Linked DNA regions of Homo sapiens. The protein of the gene in region 3 interacts with the protein of the main gene of each other region in a pairwise test. Each region holds a gene or a part of one and is shown on either strand. Other genes may lie near its edges.

What was found. Proteins that work in one complex are often made in the same cells at the same time.
Region 1: the proteins of NEMP1 (region 3) and CNIH3 interact in binary tests that used the Homo sapiens proteins (3 or more experiments, as listed by UniProt).
Region 2: the proteins of NEMP1 (region 3) and GUCA2A interact in binary tests that used the Homo sapiens proteins (3 or more experiments, as listed by UniProt).

What each region holds. Positions count from the first base shown.
Region 1 is NC_000001.11:224,737,723-224,742,329, reverse strand, and holds the end of CNIH3 (protein cornichon homolog 3), read right to left. Parts: intron 3,002-4,607; coding exon 2,974-3,001; 3' UTR 1,776-2,973; downstream 1-1,775. UniProt on the Homo sapiens protein: Regulates the trafficking and gating properties of AMPA-selective glutamate receptors (AMPARs).
Region 2 is NC_000001.11:42,160,915-42,169,226, reverse strand, and holds GUCA2A (guanylin precursor), read left to right. Parts: upstream 1-4,481; 5' UTR 4,482-4,514; coding exon 4,515-4,589; intron 4,590-5,616; coding exon 5,617-5,824; intron 5,825-6,256; coding exon 6,257-6,321; 3' UTR 6,322-6,537; downstream 6,538-8,312.
Region 3 is NC_000012.12:57,054,551-57,063,068, forward strand, and holds the end of NEMP1 (nuclear envelope integral membrane protein 1 isoform a precursor), read right to left. Parts: intron 6,396-8,518; coding exon 6,222-6,395; intron 5,510-6,221; coding exon 5,329-5,509; 3' UTR 1,093-5,328; downstream 1-1,092. UniProt on the Homo sapiens protein: Together with EMD, contributes to nuclear envelope stiffness in germ cells. Required for female fertility. Essential for normal erythropoiesis. Required for efficient nuclear envelope opening and enucleation during the late stages of erythroblast maturation.

The DNA.
Region 1 (4,607 bases), on a different chromosome or scaffold from region 3:
TTTATAGAAAGCCAGTGTGGTAGGTGCCATTATTCTTCCACCTTAGCAAAGCGAAAAGTGAGCTTTAAGTGACTCTTCCAGGTTCCCCTCTGACCCTTTGGGCACAGCCACACCAGGCCTATAGCTCTACCTCTCTAAAGAATGGGAACCAGTTCACCAACACCATCTTCAGGAGCTGACTCTGCCCCACTGGGAAGCTCTCTCCTTGACGCATGCTTGGAAAGGTGAGCTTTTTGTCTCTCAAGGAAAATATTCACTTTGTATTTTGGAAAACAGAGGAGTTTCTCCTGCTTTTCCTCTCTTCTTCCCTTTGGTCACTTCTGTGGGATACACAATAAGAGACTGGGCAATAAGAACAAAATTATGTGAGAAGAGGCGGACTTGGGTTTAAATCCCAGCTACAGCTAGACATACCCGTTGCTAGCTGTGGCTCTCTGCAAGTGACTCCTCTTCTCAGTTTCCTCATCTATAAAAGAGAGATCATATCCACCTTGTGGTACTGTCATGAGGATCAGGGAAAAGCATATGAAGCATCTAGATCACTGCCAGGTGCCTTGGTTTATAACTGTCATTATTTGGCCACTTCTTCGTAGCATCAAGGCCTTGTTCTGCGCTACTTCACCTAGGGAAGACTCACCTTCCCTGAGGCTCCCTAGTTCTCTCATGGGTGACGTGGGGACGAGAACAGCTAACCTGCTGTGCATGATCACTGTGAGGGGTGGGTGAGGTCACCCCGTGAGCATTTAACACAGTGCCTGGCGCACAGCACGTGCCCCATCAACTGTGCCCTTTACTCTTATCTTTATCATCATGATTAGCTTCTCCCAGGAACTGAAAATTCACTGAAACTCCCAACAGATCACGAGAATTACTTCCCAATCACAACTTGTCGGAGGGAAATATCTGGATGTTTCTCTTTCATAAACATAAGAGCTGTCAGGCCAGTGGCAGTGGCTTAGCCTATAATCCCAGCACTTCGGGAGGTGAAGGTGAGCAGATTGCTTGAGTCCAAGAGTTTGAGACCAGCCTGGGCAACATGGCAAAACCCCATCTCTACAAAAAATACAAAAATTAGCCAGACATGGTGGTGTGCACCTGTAGTCTACTCGGGAGACTGAGGTGGGAGCAACACCTGAGCCCAGGAGGGTCAAAGCTGCAGAGAGCCATGACTGCACTACTGCACTCCAGCCTGGGCGACAGAGTGAGACCCTATCTCAAAAAAAAAAAAAAAAAAAAAGACATTTCTACTTCCATTTTAATGGTCTTTGTGTACTTGTGTCTCCTATTATGAGCCACTACAAATCTTTCTGAAAGAAGACAGAGTATAGAAACAAAACAGCTCCATGGTGAGAAGTAACACAGACCATTCACCTTCTACATCCAGTTGCATTTGCAGGACGGCTGTGCGATTAGATTAGCGTCTGCAGCCTGCCATCCAAGGCTTGCCTCTCTGGATGAGGGTCACTAGTCTTCTCAGGAATGAAGCCAAAGCCAGGCCCAAGCAGCCGAAAGGTAACTCTATCCCTAACAACAGTTACCTGGTCGGTAAAAAGGGCATTGGCCAAGAGGAAGCCTTCTCCCAAAATCATCACCTCAAATTCTCCAGTTTTATACCATAAACCTCAGAGTAAAAGTCTGCATTTTGTTTTCCACAGAATTTTTAGCAGCATGATGCCTTTTTGAAAATTTGCCTTTTCTTCCTATCAGTTTTCCAACCATATGTAGACAAATTCAGCTGTAATGGTTGAAATGAGAGAGCCAGTTAAGTGAGACACTCAAGTTGTCGCTGCATTTTAATAAACATAGCACACAATGTGTTGCTACACAAACACCATTCATAAACCTGAGTCACAGGTTTCAGATGGGAGCTGGGGACGTGTATAAATAGCCTGTGTATGTTAAACAGTAGAAAAGAAAAGAAGTTTGGGGAATAAGGTCAAAATCATTGTGCCCAATTTAAACATCATAAAAATCTCAGCCTTGTCATTATTTACAACCCCCAGCATAACTCCCACCCAAAAGAGAATGCCAAACGGAAAATTCTAAATAAGATGATGTCCTCACGTCGACCTAAACAGTACAAATGATGCAGCATCATAAAACAAAGTTATAATTATGTTGTCTCACTTCCTGGCTGCCGGATGCCCACGGTACAGAGCAGCCACTCCACAGGATTTTCTGAGCTCTGAGCTGTCTGGGGTTTTTGTAAGAACATAGCTTTGACTAGCATTGACCAATTGATTTGCATTTAAAGACTCTGTGATGGTTTGAGGTGGCAAAAGAAGAATACAACTTGTGTGGTGGAGAACTAACACCTTGATCATGTTGCAAACGTTTCAAAAATGCATTTTTCCTATATTCACCCCTCCTCAGCTGAAAATAGCCCAGCAGGCTCAAGGCTGGTTGCAGCTGAAGACAAATCCCACACACCCTCCAGCCCCTCCCATTTGAGAAAAAGGGCATGGCCATGGCTTGGAAGAAAGGCAACAAGAGTCTTGGGCAGCCAAGACATTCTCGAGGCTTTCAACAGGTCCCTGCAGACTTGGCCTTGACTCTGGGTCATTCTGTTCCTTAGCAAGCACCTTGTGGCCTTCCAGCCTCCGCTCCCAGGAACTCATTTGAACTTGCAAGGTGCTGTTCAATGAAGTGGATTCAGGAAGCAGCAATTCTCTCTCAGGAGAGGTCTAGTGTTTCGTCACCTACTCCCCCACACCACTGATGCTCAGAAGGGCTCTAGGACCCCGTGTGTGGAATTCGAATGCCAAAGATTGACAAACAGGGTGACACAGACACGCAGGGTTAACTCGGCTCCCAGCTGCTGCGTGATTCCAGCTCCCATTCAGTCTGACTGCCTGCCGGGTCTATTTCTCACGTATCCTCATTCTGGTCCCTCCTCCAGTCACCAGCAGAAATGCACCTCTCCGTCTCAGGCCTCTCCCATCTCAGTCTCTGATGATGTGCATGGTCTTTGCGTTAAGAGCTCACTAAAGTGTAGATCATGCTGAATGCAAAAAAAAAAAAAAAAAAAAAAAAAGAGAGGAAGGTGTTAGTAGAAGCCCACAGAGGACTCAGGCTGCCCCTCAGGAGAGGGACCTTCCAGAGGCCAGACCCCTTGGCTTCTCCCTCATTCCTGTCACTACAGCATCTCGCCAACTCCACTACTGTGCCCCTTCTACTTCCCACAACACTGGAATAAAAATTTTTTGGGAGAGCATATTGTATCCCTTGGATAAAAGATGTGAAAGCTCTAAGTGCCTATTATCATTCTCATCAGGATGATGATTATGGTTGTTTTCCTTTTTGTGCAATTGCAGGGCAGGTCTGGGGGTGGAGGTGGGGGTGCAGTGGATTCTTTATGCCACCAGCTGCCATGTGCTTGCATGATGGCTGTGTCCAGGGGCTCCCAGATGATGCTGGATAATACGGTAGTGCTGGGGGAAAGATCATCATCACTACTGCAAAGGCCAGCGTGGGAACATAAGCCCTCTGGGCACCAGAACTCAATGAATTCTTGATTGGGTAACTCCCTGGCCCTCTTATTTTTAATGGACTCCAGGAATTAAACATGCATTAAAAGTGTGTGACCTAAAGTATTGCCCCAATACTACTAAGAGTGGGGTGAAGGGGACATGTATCCCTGTGCGCTTAGTAAGGGCTTCAGGGTAATTTTGCAAGGCTGAGGAATGATCTGCACCAAAATATACCTCTTTGTCTATTTCGCAGAAAAAGAAACCAACTATCTTTTCACATTATAGTGAGAAAAAAAGATTCATCTAAGAAGTAAAACCAAAGGAAAGAAATGAAAAGGTTTGACTTCTAACCCTTTGCAGCTGTGGATGCCCAATGAGCTCCTCTGAGTAGCTCAAGTTCCATCTTCAGGAACCTCACACACCTCATGTACACAGAGAACCACTGGTCAGACCTGGAGCAAGAGGGACTTACTCTACTTGGGGAAGCTGAGGGCCAGATGAGGAGTGACAGCAGGGCGAGAAGCCACATTCTAACTCCAAAGCCAGTGCTTTTTGCATAACAGTACTAAGCCTCAAGTGGATACCTTTGTTTACTCACTTTCATTCGTTATGCCAGACACTATTCTCAGTGCTGGGGAAAATGGTGAGTGTGCAGCCCCAATTCCTGCCTTGAGGAAGCATACAGCTAAGCTGTAACAACAAACCACGAGGATTCAGTGAGTGCCAGGCACGGGCCAGGACACTGCAGACGCAGAGGTGAATGAAACCAACATGGTCTCCAGTGTCAAGGAACAAGTAAATCATAAATAACATAGATGGAGAGAAATAAACCTGAGGAGGAACAGGCATGATCCAGAATAACCACGCAGGAGGGTGGTCCTACTACTTCAGGTCGGAAAAAAATCTTTCTACAGAGCAGACACTGTTCACACTGGGCTCACTAGCTAGTATTAGTATCTGCATTAGCTAGTCCCCTTCTAACACAACCCTCAAATATCACCTGGTCCACAAGGCAACCTGAGAAGTGGGGTGATGGGTGCCATGCGGTTCAAACAGGATAGAAGAAAGAGCACAGGCTCTGAAGCCAGATGTTGCTAATTATTAGCAGGGACCTGAGACACATTTCTTAACCTCTCC
Region 2 (8,312 bases), on a different chromosome or scaffold from region 3:
CCAGGCTGGTCTTGAACTCCTGACCTCGTGATCCACCCGCCTCTGCCTCCCAAAGTGCTGGGATTACAGGCATGAGCCATCGCAAGCCTGGCCGGTGACACTGGATTCTAATACAGGGTTGCCTGGCTCCGAAGCCTGAGCCCTTGAAGCCACAGCACCCCAGGTTTAAGTCCCTCCTTCTGGGTCCACTCCAGGGAGTCCTTTGGGATCCTGGTTGAATGGAGAGCTCAGCAGGGGCCTGATCACAAAAACCCTGAATGCCAGGCAAGGGAGGCTGGCTTTCTTCCAAAGGGTTTGGGCAGCCACTGATGGGTTTTCAGAGGGGGAGGCAGGCAGGACAGGTGGCATGGCCTGGAAGGCTATTAGGAGCAAGAGTTTGCCAGAAAAGGCAGTCTTGGAGTGTGGGAAACCCAAACAGCCTCAGACCCTCCTTCTGCCCATATGGAAGAATGAGGGATGTGGGGGTGCTGGGGACCAGGGCCTGAGGACTCAGGGTGTAGGCTGGGGTGGGAGGCAGGAAGCTTGGAGTTCTGGGAAGAGCCCAAGATCCAACTTCCAGCAGCTTCAGAGCAGGCTGCAGAGGTCCTGAGCACCCTGGAGGTTCAGAGGGGAGGGGGCCTGAACTCACGGCTGGGGCCAGACTAGGCAGAGGGGCTTGGGGAACAAGGGAAGGGGAGTTGGTTCCCATTTCCCAGGGTAGAGGTCAGAGGTGGAGTTGGGTAGGGGAGGACCCTAAGGGCCATGGCCTAGGAGTCACTTCCTCTTTCCCACAGTGTGGAGTGATGTCACTCCTGAACCCACTCCATTCCATCCCTGCCTTATAGCAGGCAAGCCTTGGCCAGGGGGGCTGTGGGAGAAAGAGGCTCAGGGATGAAAGCCCCTGCCCTTTACCCCCATTCCTGCCACAGCTTGGGAGGGGAAAGACCAAAATGAGTCAGAAAAAACAGGTCCTCAGCCTGGTGGCCCCACCTAAGCCCCATCCTTAACTGAAAGTCAAATCCCAACCCAGCTGTAGCGTCACACTTAAGCCAGACCCACCCCCATCATAAACCTAACCCAGTCACACCTCCAATCTCTGCTGCAAACTCAACTCCAATCCCAGTCCTGCCAATGAGCCCTAACCTAGCCCAAACCAGCCTCCACGTCAGTTACAAGCACCACATCAGTTCAATCTGGACTGCGCCCTCGGCTCCACACCTAACTCTAATTTACCCCTGCCCAACCTCAGCTCCATCTCAACCTGACCCTAATCCAAACCAACTTTAGTGTCGCCCGAATTGACCCCAATCCCAACCCCGCTCCGGTCTCCGCAAGCCCCGGCTCCAGTCTAGCATGGAGCTCAGCCGCACTCCCGAACTTCTCCCGGTGTTCATCCCCACCCCAGCCTCCGAAACTCCTGCCCCTCACCTTTCCCCCAGCTCCATCCCCCGACATCCTGTTGCTCAGCATCCAAGTCCCACGCCCCGACCCTCAGCCCCATTCCTTCCCCTAACCCCACTCACTCCCACGCCCACTCCCACCTGCCCTCAGCGAGGGGACCAGTGTGTGGCTGACCTTGGTGGGCACACACACATGTCCAGGCACGCACACACACCTCAGTGTATACACACACGTCAGCACACACACACGTCAGTGCACACACACACGTCAGCACTCACACACACCTCAGTGTATACACACACGTCAGCACTCACGCACACCTCAGTGTATACACACACTTCAGCACACACGCACCTCAGTGTATACACACACGTCAGCACACACACACCTCAGCACACACACAGTGTATACACACGTCAGCACACACACCTCAGTGTATACACACACGTCAGCGCACACACACCTCAGTGTATACACACACGTCAGCACTCACACACCTCAGCACATACACGCACCTCAGTGTATACACACATGTCAGCACACACACACCTCAGCACACACACGCACCTCAGTGTATACACACACATCAGCGCACACATACCTCAGCACACACACGCTCCTCAGTGTATACACACATGTCAGCACTCACACACACCTCAGTGTATACACACACATCAGCACACACACAGCTCAGCACACACACACACCTCAGCACACACACAGTGTATACACACGTCAGCACACACACCTCAGTGTATACACACACGTCAGCGCACACACACCTCAGTGTATACACACACGTCAGCACTCACACACCTCAGCACATACACGCACCTCAGTGTATACACACATGTCAGCACACACACACCTCAGCACACACACGCACCTCAGTGTATACACACACATCAGCGCACACATACCTCAGCACACACACGCTCCTCAGTGTATACACACACATCAGCACTCACACACACCTCAGTGTATACACACACATCAGCACACACACAGCTCAGCACACACACACACCTCAGCACACACACACACCTCAGTGTATACACACACGTCAGCACACACACACCTCAGCACACATACGCACCTCAGCACACATACGCACCTCAGTGTATACACACACGTCAGCACTCACACACGTCAGCACACACACACCTCAGCGCATACATGCACCTCAGTGTATACACACACCTCGGCACACACACGCACAACACAGCAGATGCACTCAGCTCAGCATACACACACACACCTCAGTGCACATACACACACATATCTCAGTGCATATACACACATGAGCATACACACACACATACCTCAGTGCACATACACACACCCCAGCAGACACCCCAGCAGACACACATCCCAGCAAACACACACACCTCGGTGTACACACACGCGCCTGTGTATATACACACTGACACACACACACCTCGATGTATATATGCACACCTCCTTGCACAGACACAGATACCTTGGTGTACACGGACACACATATACCCCTCAGCATACACACACATACACCTCAGCATATATACACATACACTCCTCAGTGTACACACATGCCTCAGCACACACACACCTTCAGCACAAGCACACATACAAACACACCTTGGCTACACACACCCATCAGGGTATATACAGACACCTTGGCATACACAGACATACACATCTCCGCAGACACACCCCCCCTTAACACACACACACACACACACACACACACACTCACCAGAAAGGGGTGGGAAATCCAGTGCAGCTGTGAGGACTGCCCTGGGAGCTGGGCCAGGAGCTACCTGCCCCTCCCTGAGGGCCTTGTCCCTGCAGTTCCCTCCTGGTCAGGCCCTGCTCTCTCCAATTCCCTCTTCAGTGTTGACTCTCCCCACCCAGGAATTCCTGCCCAACCTCCCGCCCTAGGGCTGTCCTGGCATCGGGCCAGGTTGGCTGAGTAGAAAGATGACAATCCCAGGGCTACCCTTTCTCCTGTGTCCTGGGGATTCCTGCTCACAACAGCACACAGTGAATGCACGCTGCCCTGAGGGCGCAGTCTGAATGGGGTCAGAGTCTATAGGGGCGCGGGCACACCCAAGCAATTCCCCAGTGAGATCCGCGGAAAGGGGACTGTATCTGCAGGGGCAAGGGGGGCGGGCGGATTGGGGAGGAGCTCATTCGAGGACACCCTGAGGCTGCAGGGCAGGCAGGACAGGATGGGGACCAGCACAGGATGGGGACAGCCTGTGACTCAGACAGGCAGGAGGTCACCAGAGGGGCCAGGGAGGACCAGGAGCTGCTGTGGCTGCTAATAATATGGGAATGGACCTCTGCTGAGCACCTTCTGTGTGCCAGGCATTGAGCTAAATGTTTTTAAAACCTCACTTGATTCTCCAAACAGTAATGCCTACCACACACCTACCCCATGAGGTAGGTATTATTTTTGGTTCCCACAGGGGACACAAGGGACAACGAGACTCAGAGAGGGGAAAGCATTGGCCCAAGTTCACACGCCTCACAACTGGGCAGTAGGTGGAACGGAACCCAGGCTGTGCGGAGGGCTTCCTTGAGGTCGCGGCAATCAAACCCAGACCCTGACTTGCCCTGCAGCCTCCCCCGTGGAATTTCTCACATTTCCCTGAATATTCCAGGCCCGTCTCACCTCCTGGCTGTCCCTTTGGCATGAAATGGCCTTCTGTCCTCAGTCCCTTCTCTGGGAAAACTTCCACCCATTCTCCAGAGCTCAGCCCCCAGTGCAGCCCCGTCACCTCATCCTAGGATCACCCCACCCTAATCGCCCTGCGTTTCACTGTCGGGCTGGGCCCCCCTCCTCAAGGGCAGGGTCTGCCGGCCCCACACAGCAGCACAGGGCAGTCGTGAGTGAATGTGCCTTGTTGGTGAATGAATGCAGGACCCAGCCCGGCTGTGGGTCAAAGTAGGTGCTCAGGGAGGGGCCGGGGCCCCCCCTGCCTGGCTCTTATCTCCTAGGGCTGTCTCGAGCCTTATCTGATAAGGCCTGACAGGTGAGCAGATGAGACTGACAGAGGCTTCCAGGTTACTCAGTAACCTGCCCTCTTTAAAAGTCCCGCCGCTTCCCCCTGGCATCCAGAACAGCCACCCCTCTCTCGGGCACTGCTGCCATGAATGCCTTCCTGCTCTCCGCACTGTGCCTCCTTGGGGCCTGGGCCGCCTTGGCAGGAGGGGTCACCGTGCAGGTGAGTCCTGTGTCCCTACCCCGGCCCAGCTGGCTCCCTGCCCCTAGTGCCCAGGTCTGGTCCCCTGAGAGAGTACCTCCTCTTTGGGGCTGGATTGAGGGTGTGTGTCCCAGGCTTGGCCTTCTTCGAGGAGCTCCTGCTCAGTCCAGCCACACACACACCTTTCCCTTCAACTTTGGAGGAGAAAGAAACCCAGTGGAGGGAAGAGGAATAACCATATGGGGAAGGCGGGGAGTTGGCCAATTTACTGAGTGTCCTATGTGCCGGCTCCTTCCCCAGCCCCTCACTGTGGCTCCACTATCAACCTGGAAGAAAGGGATCATTAGTCCCATTTTACAGAGGGGAAAACTGAGCCTCACAAAGGTTCTGTAACAGGCCATGGGCACATGGCTGTGGGAAGTGCAGGAGCTGGATTTAAATCCAGACCTTACTCCTCAGTGGGTCCCAGGAACCACATGGACACCCTGGAGGTCCTGACAGATGGGTATGCCTACCAGTGCCAATGCTGGCGACAGGCCAAGCTGGCACCTAGCGGGGGCCCTGATCTCTATCAAAGCCAGATTCCGGGAGGCCTTTTATTGCTTCTCAAACCAAAACCAGGCTGCAGGCTGGAGCTGGGGGCCCAGTAATCAGCCGCACCGCTCTCAGGCAGGGGAAAGACAGCCTGGGCTTGGCCACGTGGAACTACGATGCCTGGGTGCTGGTCCTTTGCCTCTCCCTAAAAATCAGCACACTGGCTCCTACTCATTAGGCACCTATGGTGTTCCTGGAGCTTCACACCCATTTTCTCCATTCCCCATACAACATGCAGAATTTGCGGGTTCCAGAGTGTCCAGCATCACGGAGCCAAGCCAGGACGTGGGGCCTGAACTCTGCCCCTCACAGTGCCCCACTGTGGATCGCCTGGCTCCCATATGCCACGAACACTGCCTGTGAGCACCACTGGGCTGGACCGGGGCCAGCACGGGGGGCACAGCCAGGAAGCAGGCTGCAGCCTGGCCTCATGCTCTGGGCTTCTCTCTTCCAGGATGGAAATTTCTCCTTTTCTCTGGAGTCAGTGAAGAAGCTCAAAGACCTCCAGGAGCCCCAGGAGCCCAGGGTTGGGAAACTCAGGAACTTTGCACCCATCCCTGGTGAACCTGTGGTTCCCATCCTCTGTAGCAACCCGAACTTTCCAGAAGAACTCAAGCCTCTCTGCAAGGAGCCCAATGCCCAGGAGATACTTCAGAGGCTGGGTGAGCAGCCTCCTTCCTCTCTGATTGGTGGGGTTCGGGAATACTGTGGTGGCACTTGAGGAAGAGATGTGCTCTGATTGGTGGGATTTGGAGGAAGGGCTCAGCTCTGACTGGTGGAACTAGGGAGCTTGGCTCTGATTGGTGGGTCTGTTCCATGCCCACTTCAATTCCAAGTTGTAACTGCTGAGGTTTGGGAACTAAGACCATTCATCTGGTCTTAGTTTCCTCTCTTTCTGGTGGAATCTCTGCTTTGATTGGTTGGTTTGAGTGGTCTGTGTGCCCTGGTTTGGGGCGAAAAGCCCAGTAGGTCAGAGTACGGGCCTGCTGAGATTCTCCTGGGGCTGGGTGGTGACGTACAAGCTCTGGGCCAAGGGCGGCAGGGGCCTCGCGAGGAAATGCTGGTTCTCACGAGGCTCCATCTCTGTTGTGCAGAGGAAATCGCTGAGGACCCGGGCACATGTGAAATCTGTGCCTACGCTGCCTGTACCGGATGCTAGGGGGGCTTGCCCACTGCCTGCCTCCCCTCCGCAGCAGGGAAGCTCTTTTCTCCTGCAGAAAGGGCCACCCATGATACTCCACTCCCAGCAGCTCAACCTACCCTGGTCCAGTCGGGAGGAGCAGCCCGGGGAGGAACTGGGTGACTGGAGGCCTCGCCCCAACACTGTCCTTCCCTGCCACTTCAACCCCCAGCTAATAAACCAGATTCCAGAGTACTCTGGGTGTTGCCTTCCTTCCTTCCTTCATCCCCTAGTCTATCCTGCCCTGGAAGCTCGGGATGTAATGTACTAAGCGAAGGACCCCACTCTCCCTGCTAAGCTGCTCACTGTCCCTGGGGCTGCCACAACACAGAGGCGTGGAGAGGATCTGGATCTCCAAACCACCAAGGCAGCGGGTGGTGGGGAGGGTTTGCTTTTATTTCACATCTCCTGAGGTCACCAAGTTCACTGAGCCACATGTGAGCACGGGAGCCAGTCTGAGCTGGTTTGGACAACCAATACAGGCACTTGGCCCACTAGAAGACTGGCACCAAACTCTTGGGTATTCAAGGACTTGGCTCCCACCAGCCATGCTAGTGTGGCCTCCAGCCCTGACCACATCCCAAACCACACCTCTTGCCATTTCCTCTGCTGCTGCTCACCTCTCCACTGCCCGTCTTCCCACACTACTGTCCAGGCAAACTCCTACTCAGGGTCCAAGGCTTTCATTCCACGGCCTCTCCTCAAGACAACTTGCTCAACCCCCCAGGAAGAGTCTCAGTGCTCCCATTGTGACCTTGACCTTGGTGCTTTCTGGGCACTGTGATCACCCACAACCCTTGCACAGCTGTGGCCACCCTGTTGTGTAATGGCTTCTGTGCCTGGGGAAGTCTCTCTGACCTCCAGACCCACATGGATAATTGCATGAGGATATAAAACAGGGCAGGGGCCCAGCCACAGCTTTTCCAAGTACTGTGTGATCTTTGGAAAGTCACCTTCCCTCTCTGTGCCTCCACCTCTTCCTCTATAAAACTGGGACACTAATATTTCCTGCCTCCCAGGCTGGGTGAAATAATGCATATAAAGCCCTCAGTTCAGGCCTGACACAAACGTAAGAGGAATTCAATAAGTGGTAAAACAAACTAGAGAAAAGGGGACCAGGATCAGGCTGAAAGTGGTTCAGACAGGGTGAGGAGGCAGGGTGTGGAAGTGAGGCCTATTAGCAAAGGTAGAGGGAACAAAAAAAAGAGGAGGCAGAACTCCCAAGGGTCCATCTTGAGGAGTGGGGTGGAGGGGAAGTGTCTCAAGGGGGATTCCATGGGCTTCAGAATTCAAAACATAAGGTCTCTTCTAGTTGAGATCAGTAAGGCTTTGTGAAAGGGGAAGGGCAAGTGCATTTGCATCACCCCTCGAGATTTGCACTGGGATGCAGGGAATTTCAAAACCAGTGTGGAAGTAGGGAGAAAGAGAGTGTTGCAGAAGGTGGGAATGGTGCAGACAGACACAAAGACATAGGAATGGTTCAGTCAGGACAGAGTGGAGCTTGGGAAGGCAGACAGGACTGAGTTTGAGCCTTACTGTGTCATTTACAAGCTGAGTGTCCCTCTCTGAGGCTTGGTTTCTCATCTGAAAGTGAGGATGATAACAGACCCTACCTCCCAAGGTTGGCGGGGGATTAAGTGAGATGTATGGTAGAGTAGAATCATTTAATGCCCTAACTCTGGAGCCAGACTCTTTGGGTATAAATCCTGGCTCTGTCTTTTACAGCTATGTGCCTTTAGGCAGGCTACCTAGCCTGTTCTCTCCTCAGTTTTCTCATCTGTAAAATGGGGAAGATAAGAATCCATATATCATAGGGTTGAGTGAAGAGTAAATGAAAAAATGCTGGAAAAATTTTTAAAACTCCCCTGGTTTTGAACAACCACTGGGTCAAATAAGAAATCAAAAGGGAAATTGAAAAGTATCTTGAGACAAGTGAAAACGAAAATACAGCATACAAAAGCTTATGGGGT
Region 3 (8,518 bases):
GGTGGTGGGGGCCTGTAATCCCAGCTACTAAGGAGACTGAGGCAGGGAGAATTGCTTTAACCCAGGAGGCGGAGGTTACAGTGAGCCAAGATCCCGCCTCTGCACTCCAGCCTGGGTGACAGAGTGAAACTCCATCTCAAAAAACAAAACAAAACAAATAATAATGATAATAAATAGGCAGGGTGCAGTGGCTCATGCCTGTAATCCCAGCACTTTGGGAGGCCAAGGCGGGCAGATCATTTGAGATCAGGAGTTCAAGACCAGCCTGGCCAACGTGGTGAAACCCCATCTCTACTAAAACTACAAAAATTATCAGGGTGTGGTGGCAGGTGCCTGTAATCCAGCTACTCGGGAGGCTGAGGCAGGAGAATCACTTGAACCCGGGAAGCAGAGATTGCAGTGAGCCGAGATCATGCCACTGCACTCCAGCCTGGGCAACAGGAAGAGACTGTCTCAAATAATAATAATAATAATTAATTAATGAGATGAAAAAACATAGGTACAGAGTTAATATGAATATTACAAAGGATTCCCAGAGCAAAGAAGGTAGCCAATACATAAAATGAAAGGTACCAGACTCCTATGGTAGAAGCTGGGCCTAGACATAATTTAAGTTTTTATTCAATACACATAAGGCTCACTACAGCCCTACTCTCTCTTCCACCCTATACAGAGCTCTTGGTAGGGATCCCATAGCTGGAGCCATAGGTCTTCTCCCCATCCCAATGGACAAACAAAAGAGATACTTTATGCCATAAAAAAAAAAAAAGAACTAAAATATAATCAGAGTAGTTCCTTGGGCCAAGAATAACCTGTATTTTGCTTTTCTATGAGACAGCATGGTAGTACAACCTGCTGCTCCTGCAAGAATACCCCTTAGAGATTTTGCATCCTGGGAAATCATCCAGTCCAAGGATGAAAGTAGACCAGTACAGACTCGGGACAGGAAGGGGTGGCTAAGAAAAAAAGGGAAATCAGTGGCATGCAAAACCATCTCATTAGAAAGATGAAACTGAGGAGTAAATTGCTGATTACCTGAAAACAAGAAATCCAAACAAGAAAATATTATGTTCATTAAGAAAGACCACAATATATCTATAAAACTTTTATTAAAATTGGAATTAGAAACTATACCAAAAACTTTAAAAATACATTAAGACATTGTTCTTTTTTCTTACAGAAAAGAGGGTGAAAATAAGACCCATGGCAAAGAGCCATCCCTGATAATTTTGTTCCTTTCAAACATTCATGAACATTTAAATAAAATTACAAATATTTAAATAACCCTAAGGTATTACCCACAGGCTAAAACTTGCCAGTAATTCCTTAGCCCTGCTATTTCAATATCAATTCCACAAACATGGAAAATTATGGTAACTGCAGGCTGTAACAGTTTCTAATATTCACATTATGAACTATTTGTTATGTTGTCATAAGAATGTGCTCATGCTATAGGCAAATTCAGAGGTGATTTCACCATTTTCAAATTATCATCAAGAGTGTGAAAGAGGAAGATGACACACACGTGGGATGGTGTGGAAATCCAAAGCCCCACATTTTGGGAGTCTGTGACCACTCCCATCTGCCACTAAAGCTACGAGTTGGTGTTGGCATGAATCTGCTTTGTTTATTCCCAGCAGGCTCTGGCTCGTGTCACATAAGGCACCAACATCCTTTTCAAGGTAGTAACCATCTAGAATCAACTCAATTGTAACCTGAATTCATAAGCTTAAGTCACCAAAAGACATCACTGGGTCATAATTATATAGGTTCCCCTAAAAAAATAAAAAAAAAATCAATTTCTGCTATGTAGAAAAAGAAACAAAAGGTTTAGGTGCCTTTGCCTTGTGCAATGGATATTTCATATGTTTATTAATTGGTTTCAGTTAATATGTAATATGAAGGCATGATAAATGTGTCAAACTGTTCTCTTGTTTCAGATACAATTCTTGGCATTTCAATATAGGTTATTATCTCATATGTCAGACTTGAGTCCAGAGAATACTAGAAGGACATTTAATTTCCTTTCCTCCTCCTTCCTTTCACTACTCAATTCAAAGAAAAGTTATGAGTACACAGCTAGGAACCATTTTTACGTAGGCATCCATCTGAGCCCATCTTGTTTTTTTTTTCTAAAACAACAAAAAGACTAAGGACAATTACATAATGCATTCCCAAGCCTTTTATGGATATCAGGGCCTGGGGGGACTATCTGGCCTATTTGGGTTCTTTCATTCACCAAAATTCTATTATACATGCCAAGGGTTAAAGGGAACACCATCAGTCAAGAGACGGCTGGGCCCTAGAATGGAATCTATTAGCATAAAATGGAACAGTGGGACCCAAAGAGCTATCAGCAAAATTCCCTTTGTAACAGACGTAAAAATCATGAATTTGAGGGGAAAAATAAACTAGTTTTGGTGGGATGCAGTGGCTAACAGGAATTACTTATTAGAAGGTAATGAAGTTGCTAAATTTTCCTTGTTTTTGATCCCTGTGTTCTGTTGGTCTCTTGAAGCAATCTGAGTGGGAAAGGAAAGTGAAAGAAATGTTTTATGCCAGCTGCCTCTTGTATTCCCATTAATGGGAGTCTCTACATTAATGCTCTACATAATTTGGTCAGACTGATGAGAGGCAATAGATTTCCAATGCTGATGAGATCCAGAGCCCTGGAGCCCATTTATGGCTTGACATTCACCCAGCAAGACGCTGACGTGGCAGCAAACACGGCTCCAATGTCCAGCTTACCTCATAGTTATCCCTTCAATCCTTCTTGATGAGATTGGTCTGAGAGATGAGACTGTACTGAAATCACAAGAGCTATAACTGCCAGAGAAAAATTAAATGGGGTCTTCAAGTAGTGACTGAGCCAGCAAACTAAGTGGCCAAGAGGGAGACAAGAGCAGCTCCTAAAGAAGGTTGAAGTCAAGCAATCTCCGGAACACAGAGGATCTGAAGCATCTGGGCAGAGCCACAGGCAGGCAGGGCAAGGACACACAGCACACCAGAGCAGCACCGTCCTTCACTGTGTGAGAGCAACTCTCAGGCTGCAGAACCAATTGCCATCTCCACTGCCTACAGCTCAGGTCTCCAACTACCAGATAGGGAGTAAAAAACAGTTTGATTTTATTCACCTCAAGTCTAAACACGGTGGAAAAAAAACTGGTCTAGAGATGGAAACTATATTTCATGGGGGTTTATTAAACAGAGAAAGAGGAGAATCTTTCACAATTTCACAGTGCTTTCTCATTGAAATAAAGACATGATCAGGAAAAGTCACCCTTATAGGCAAGCTATCACCTCCCTAAGTAGGGGAGGCACCAAAATCTCCAGAGAATCCTGAGACCACTTGCACGAGTTGAATTATTTTTTAAAATAAACTTATGCTTAAATATGCTAGGTCTCAATTTCTATAAATAAGGTAAAAAATAGTATATTTCAGAAGTTTTAATAGTTCTTTGTAGAGAGAGAACATTTTACCATGTACATAATTCACAAGGGTATAAAGGTTTCCCAATGTAAAGTTCCTTTTACCCTTCAACTGTAACCCATAGCATCTGCCCAAATACTGCTCATTTTTCACTTTCTACTATATGTCTCTTTCCTGCCAACTGAGGTAGTTGTCACTTAGGACAGTTTAAGGCTCTGGAAAACACTGGTGGAAATAATCAACTGCCCACCTGGAGGGCAGTCTCAGAGCTGACCCTTTGGAAGTCTGCAATGGAGCTAGGCCTTTCAAAATTACCACGCTAAATGGCTGGTCTAAAGGAGTCATTACGGCTTTTTAAAAAATCATCTGCCTTTTTCCATCATCTTGGTGAGCCAGTAAGTCTGGTGCTGTGCGCTTGCCATGACCATCTATCTTCCTGGCTAAGGTAATTACAGACTTTTCCAGGGTATAAGGGTGAAGACCACAAAGAAAAAGAACCAAGTAAATGACAGACACTTGAGAATTTGCTTCCTCACAGATGACATTGCTGGTTTATAAGGGGTACTTTGCAATGGCAAAAGAATCTGAAACTAATGCTACTGCAATAACAGGCAGCATACATCTCAGGTCAGAAACGCAATCATAAATAAGTGTAAGTTCATGGAAACTTGACAGCTGAATGAGCACCCAGAGGCATGAAGATAACCTGGAGCCTATTTCCTGGCAATGCAAATTGTGGCTGCTGCATAACTACAAATTGTGTATCAAGAAACTACATAGTTTCAAGGCTTAAAAATTACCCAGATTTGGGGGAGTATGGGTGGTGAGAAAAGGCTGAAAGGAATGGACAGAGCATGTAGACAAAGGAAGGGAAAGGAAAAGGAGACAGTTTCCTGATTTCATAGCAACTCAAAGATAACATGACCCAATGACAGGAAAATGGAGAACGTATAAAAAGCATCCAAATCCCCTAAACAAGATGACTTCTCCTAGCTAGCAGGAATAATGCTACTCTGAACATACATAGTTCACAGGTAAGGGAACTGACCCTTCCTGAAAGGGCAAAGGCAGGGTAAGGAAGAATGGGAAGAGAAGAATACAAATGTTTTTTAAGATGGAATTGAAAGTTGAATATAATAAAAAGCCCAGTACATCTCACCTGCAGAAGAGCCTACAGGCATGTTCCTAAAGGCAAATAGGACTTTCTATCATATGTATGAGAACTAAATCAAAGCTTAAAACAACAGCTCCTGGGGCTTTAATGGATAATCCATATTAATAAATATGTAGGGGCCTAGGGGGTGTGTCACTCTGGAGCACTTGCTGGTTCTGGAACATGAGTTTGTTATGTTTTTTAAAAGACATTCATTTAAAAAACAAAACAATAAAAATCTATTTTCCTCCCAAAACAGTTAAATCAATAATTATTCTAAAGTCACTGAAATAAAAGCTGGAGTGAAGGAGGCTCAGATTTGTGGATTTCTCTCTGGAAGTTGCAGCCTATAGTCTAAAAGCATTCCTGCACTTAACAACAGTTCTTACTTTGGAGAGCCAGCCAGTGACAGAAATGCCATGATTGAATCAACTTTCAAGAAGGAGCTAGAATGCCATGCTAGCTGTGGCCATCCAATTTCTCTGGAAACATAAAAGTGGGCTGTTAGCTTAACCAATGGGAAGTGAACTACCCAGCATTCACTACTTTATCCACTCTCCTTCCTCAGGGATCCCATAGAGACCTCCCATTTCCAAAGGGAGGCCTTTTTAGGCCTCTTATTTCAGTAGGAGAATTTCTACCCTATCTATCTCACTCTGTTTCAAAGGGTTGAAAGCAATTGCACAACACATGCAACATGGACCAAGGCACCAAGCCAGTCCACGTAAAGATAACTGACCACTACCTAGGTTAGAAAGTTGTTCTGTGTGATAGCAGGACACCGAGAATATGAGTCCTCCTCCTCAGAGGATGCTTCCTCATAGATTTCATCCTGGGCAATAATGCTCCCTAATCCATACTCCTGCTCATGGACAGAAACTTCATTTGGCGTGAGGTGGGAAGAGCCTTCCACAAAGTCAGCAAATCTGGAAAAGAGAAGATAATACTCGTTAGAAATATCCTTCTGTCCTTTCTGGTCTTCTTTCAAAATAAGAACAAATTAAAGCCCTCGATATGCTCGCAACTCAAATTATATTAAGTCTAGCCAACATCCTTGTCCTTACTCTGGCAGGTAAGTAGACTAAAGCATGAAGTTAAGGAGAAAAGGAAAGCTGGGATCATAGGCTAATACCCCTGCAACTCCATCCTGCTTAATAAGCACTTGCCTATCCTTTCTAATTATGAAAGTGCCAAGGTTCCTTTAGTCATCTGTAATCCTGATAAGAGAAGATTAAGGGGCATTACAGTTATTCACGTTTATGGCCCTGTAAACTTTATGCCATCATGATTCCAAATTGAAGCTTCACATACTCATTGGTACATTTGCCCCCAACTAAAAAGTGGGTAGGGGGGAACCCTACCAACTCAGACAGCAATGCAAAACTTTCAGAAGGGAAACTTAATATGGTACTGGAGTCTTCCCATCTTAATGCTACAATCAAAGCTAGAGTAGATAGTTCCCTGAGGAAACAGGTTACTGCTTAATGTGTGATTATATATCCACCCTTCTCTTGACTACTTGAAGATTAACAGGAAAACAAAGGTCACAAGTGCACGATTCTCTAGAAGTATGATCTCTGGTAGAACTCAAGGTCACAATTACCCTGATAGATGCTTGGTATATCTGGCCGAGTTTACCTTTTTGGAGACTGGATTCGAGAAACAGTCTTCCAAGCAGAGCAGTCTGGACTGTTACAAAATTCTCGGAGCTCCTCTAAAGCCTTTCGGGTTTCTACCTCTCCTTGTATCCGATATTCTTCTTCTGTCAGGAGACGAGGGGGAACAGGCTTTTCTGCTCCCTTACACACCTTTCTGTGCTCACCAAAATAACATTATGAATCATTAATCAGTAATCTATATCCATCCTTACTTCTAGCTCCCTTCAGTGGGCCAAGAATACAGCAGACAGCCTGAACATTAAGAGTCATCACTCCTAAAAATTCCATGGACATCTTTAGTTATAATGAACTCCTGATACATTAGACTATGAGTGACAATTCATAGGCGACAGAGCGAGACTCCATCTCAAAAAAAAAGTGATATAATTTGCACCACCTTGTGGTAACAGGAACACATGACATTTTACTAGACCTTTTTATTTTATATAAAATGACTAGAATAAAAATATAAAAATGCCTATAGAAAGTAAAAAATTATAGTCAATATTATTCACTAATGTGAACAAACTCACTTTATTTTCCAATAAATGATAAAATACTTACTTATTTTCTAGTAGATGGGAAAATAACAGAAAATCATGGTATAAGACTGTGGTTCTAGCCAGGCACAGTGGCTCACGCCTATAATCCCAGCACTTTGGGAGGCCAAGGCAGGCAGATCACCTGAGGTCAGGAGTTGGAGATCAACCTGACCAACACAGAGGAACCCCATCTCTACTAAAAATACAAAATTAGCCAGGCATGGTGGTGCATACCTGTAATCCCAGCTATTCGGGAGGCTGAGGCAGGACAATCGCTTGAACCAGGGAGGCGGAGGTTGCAGTGAGCCGAGATCATGCCATTGCACTCCAGCCTGGGCAACAAGAGCAAAACTCCATCTCAAAAAAAAAAAAAAACAAAAAAAAACGCCGGGCAAGGTGGCTCACACCTGTAATCCCAGCACTTTGGGAGGCCAAGGTGGGCAGATCACAAGGTCAAGATTGAGACTATCCTGGCCAACATAGTGAAACGCCATCTCTACTATAAAAATGCAAAAATTAGCTGGGCATGGTGGCATGTACCTGTAACCCCAGCTACTCAGGAGGCTGAGGCAGGAGAATCGCTTAAACCCAGGAGGCAGAGGTTGCGGTGAGCTGAGATAGCACCACTGCACTCCAGCCTGGTGACAGAGCAAGACTCCATCTCAAAAAAAAAAGATTGTGGTCCAGTAACTTGGTTTCCCAAACTGAAAGCATCACCTTGACTATCTATAATAGACAACTTCAGGACCTAGTAACATTCCATATTTATTATGCAAGGTGACAAAACATGCTATGAATTACATCTTAAAATAAGACTAAGACCTCCAGAGCAATCTGAAAGCCACTGAGAAATAGTCTGAAATGGGCTGGGTGAGGTGGCTCACGCCTATAATCCTAGCACTTTGTGGGGCTGAGGTGGGCAAATCACCTGAGGTCAGGAGTTTGAGACCACCCTGGCCAACATGGTGAAACCACATCTCTATTAAAAATACAAAAATTAGCCAGGCATAGTGGCGCCCACCCGTAGTCCCAACTATTCGGGAGGCTGAGGCAGAAGAATCACTTGAACCCGGGAGGTGGAGGCTGCAGTGAGCCGAGATCACGCCATTGTGCTCCAGCCTGGGTGACAGAGAGAGACTCTGTCTCAAAAAAAAAATCTGAACCCAGGAGACCTCAATGAGCATACGGTATAAAAGCGATACAATTTGTGGCGGGGCGCAGTGGCTCATGTCTGTAATCCCAGCACTTTGTAATCCAAGCACTTTGGGAGCTCCTCAGCACTTTATGAACTCCTGACATTTGAGGTCAGGAGTTCAAGACCAGCCTGGTCAACATGGGGAACCCTACTAAAAATATAAAAATTAGCTGAATGTGGTGGCGCATGCCTGTAATCCCAGCTACTCAGGAGGCTGAGGCAGAAGAATCGTTTGAACCCGGGAGGTGGAGGTTGCAGTGAGCCGAGATCACGCCACTGCACTCCAGCCTGGGCGACAGAGCGAGACTCCATCTCAAAAAAACAGTGATAGAATTTGCACCACCTTGTGGTAACAGGAACACATGACATTTTACTAGACATTTTATATAAAATGACTAGAATAAAAATATAAAAATTCCTATAGAAAGTAAAAAAAAAAAAATAGACTCGGGAAGGAACAAAAGTGGAAGTACAATACAATGACTTTTCATTAACAAAGAAGCTCCCAGGTCAACACCTCTGTATCCTCTTGCTGCAACT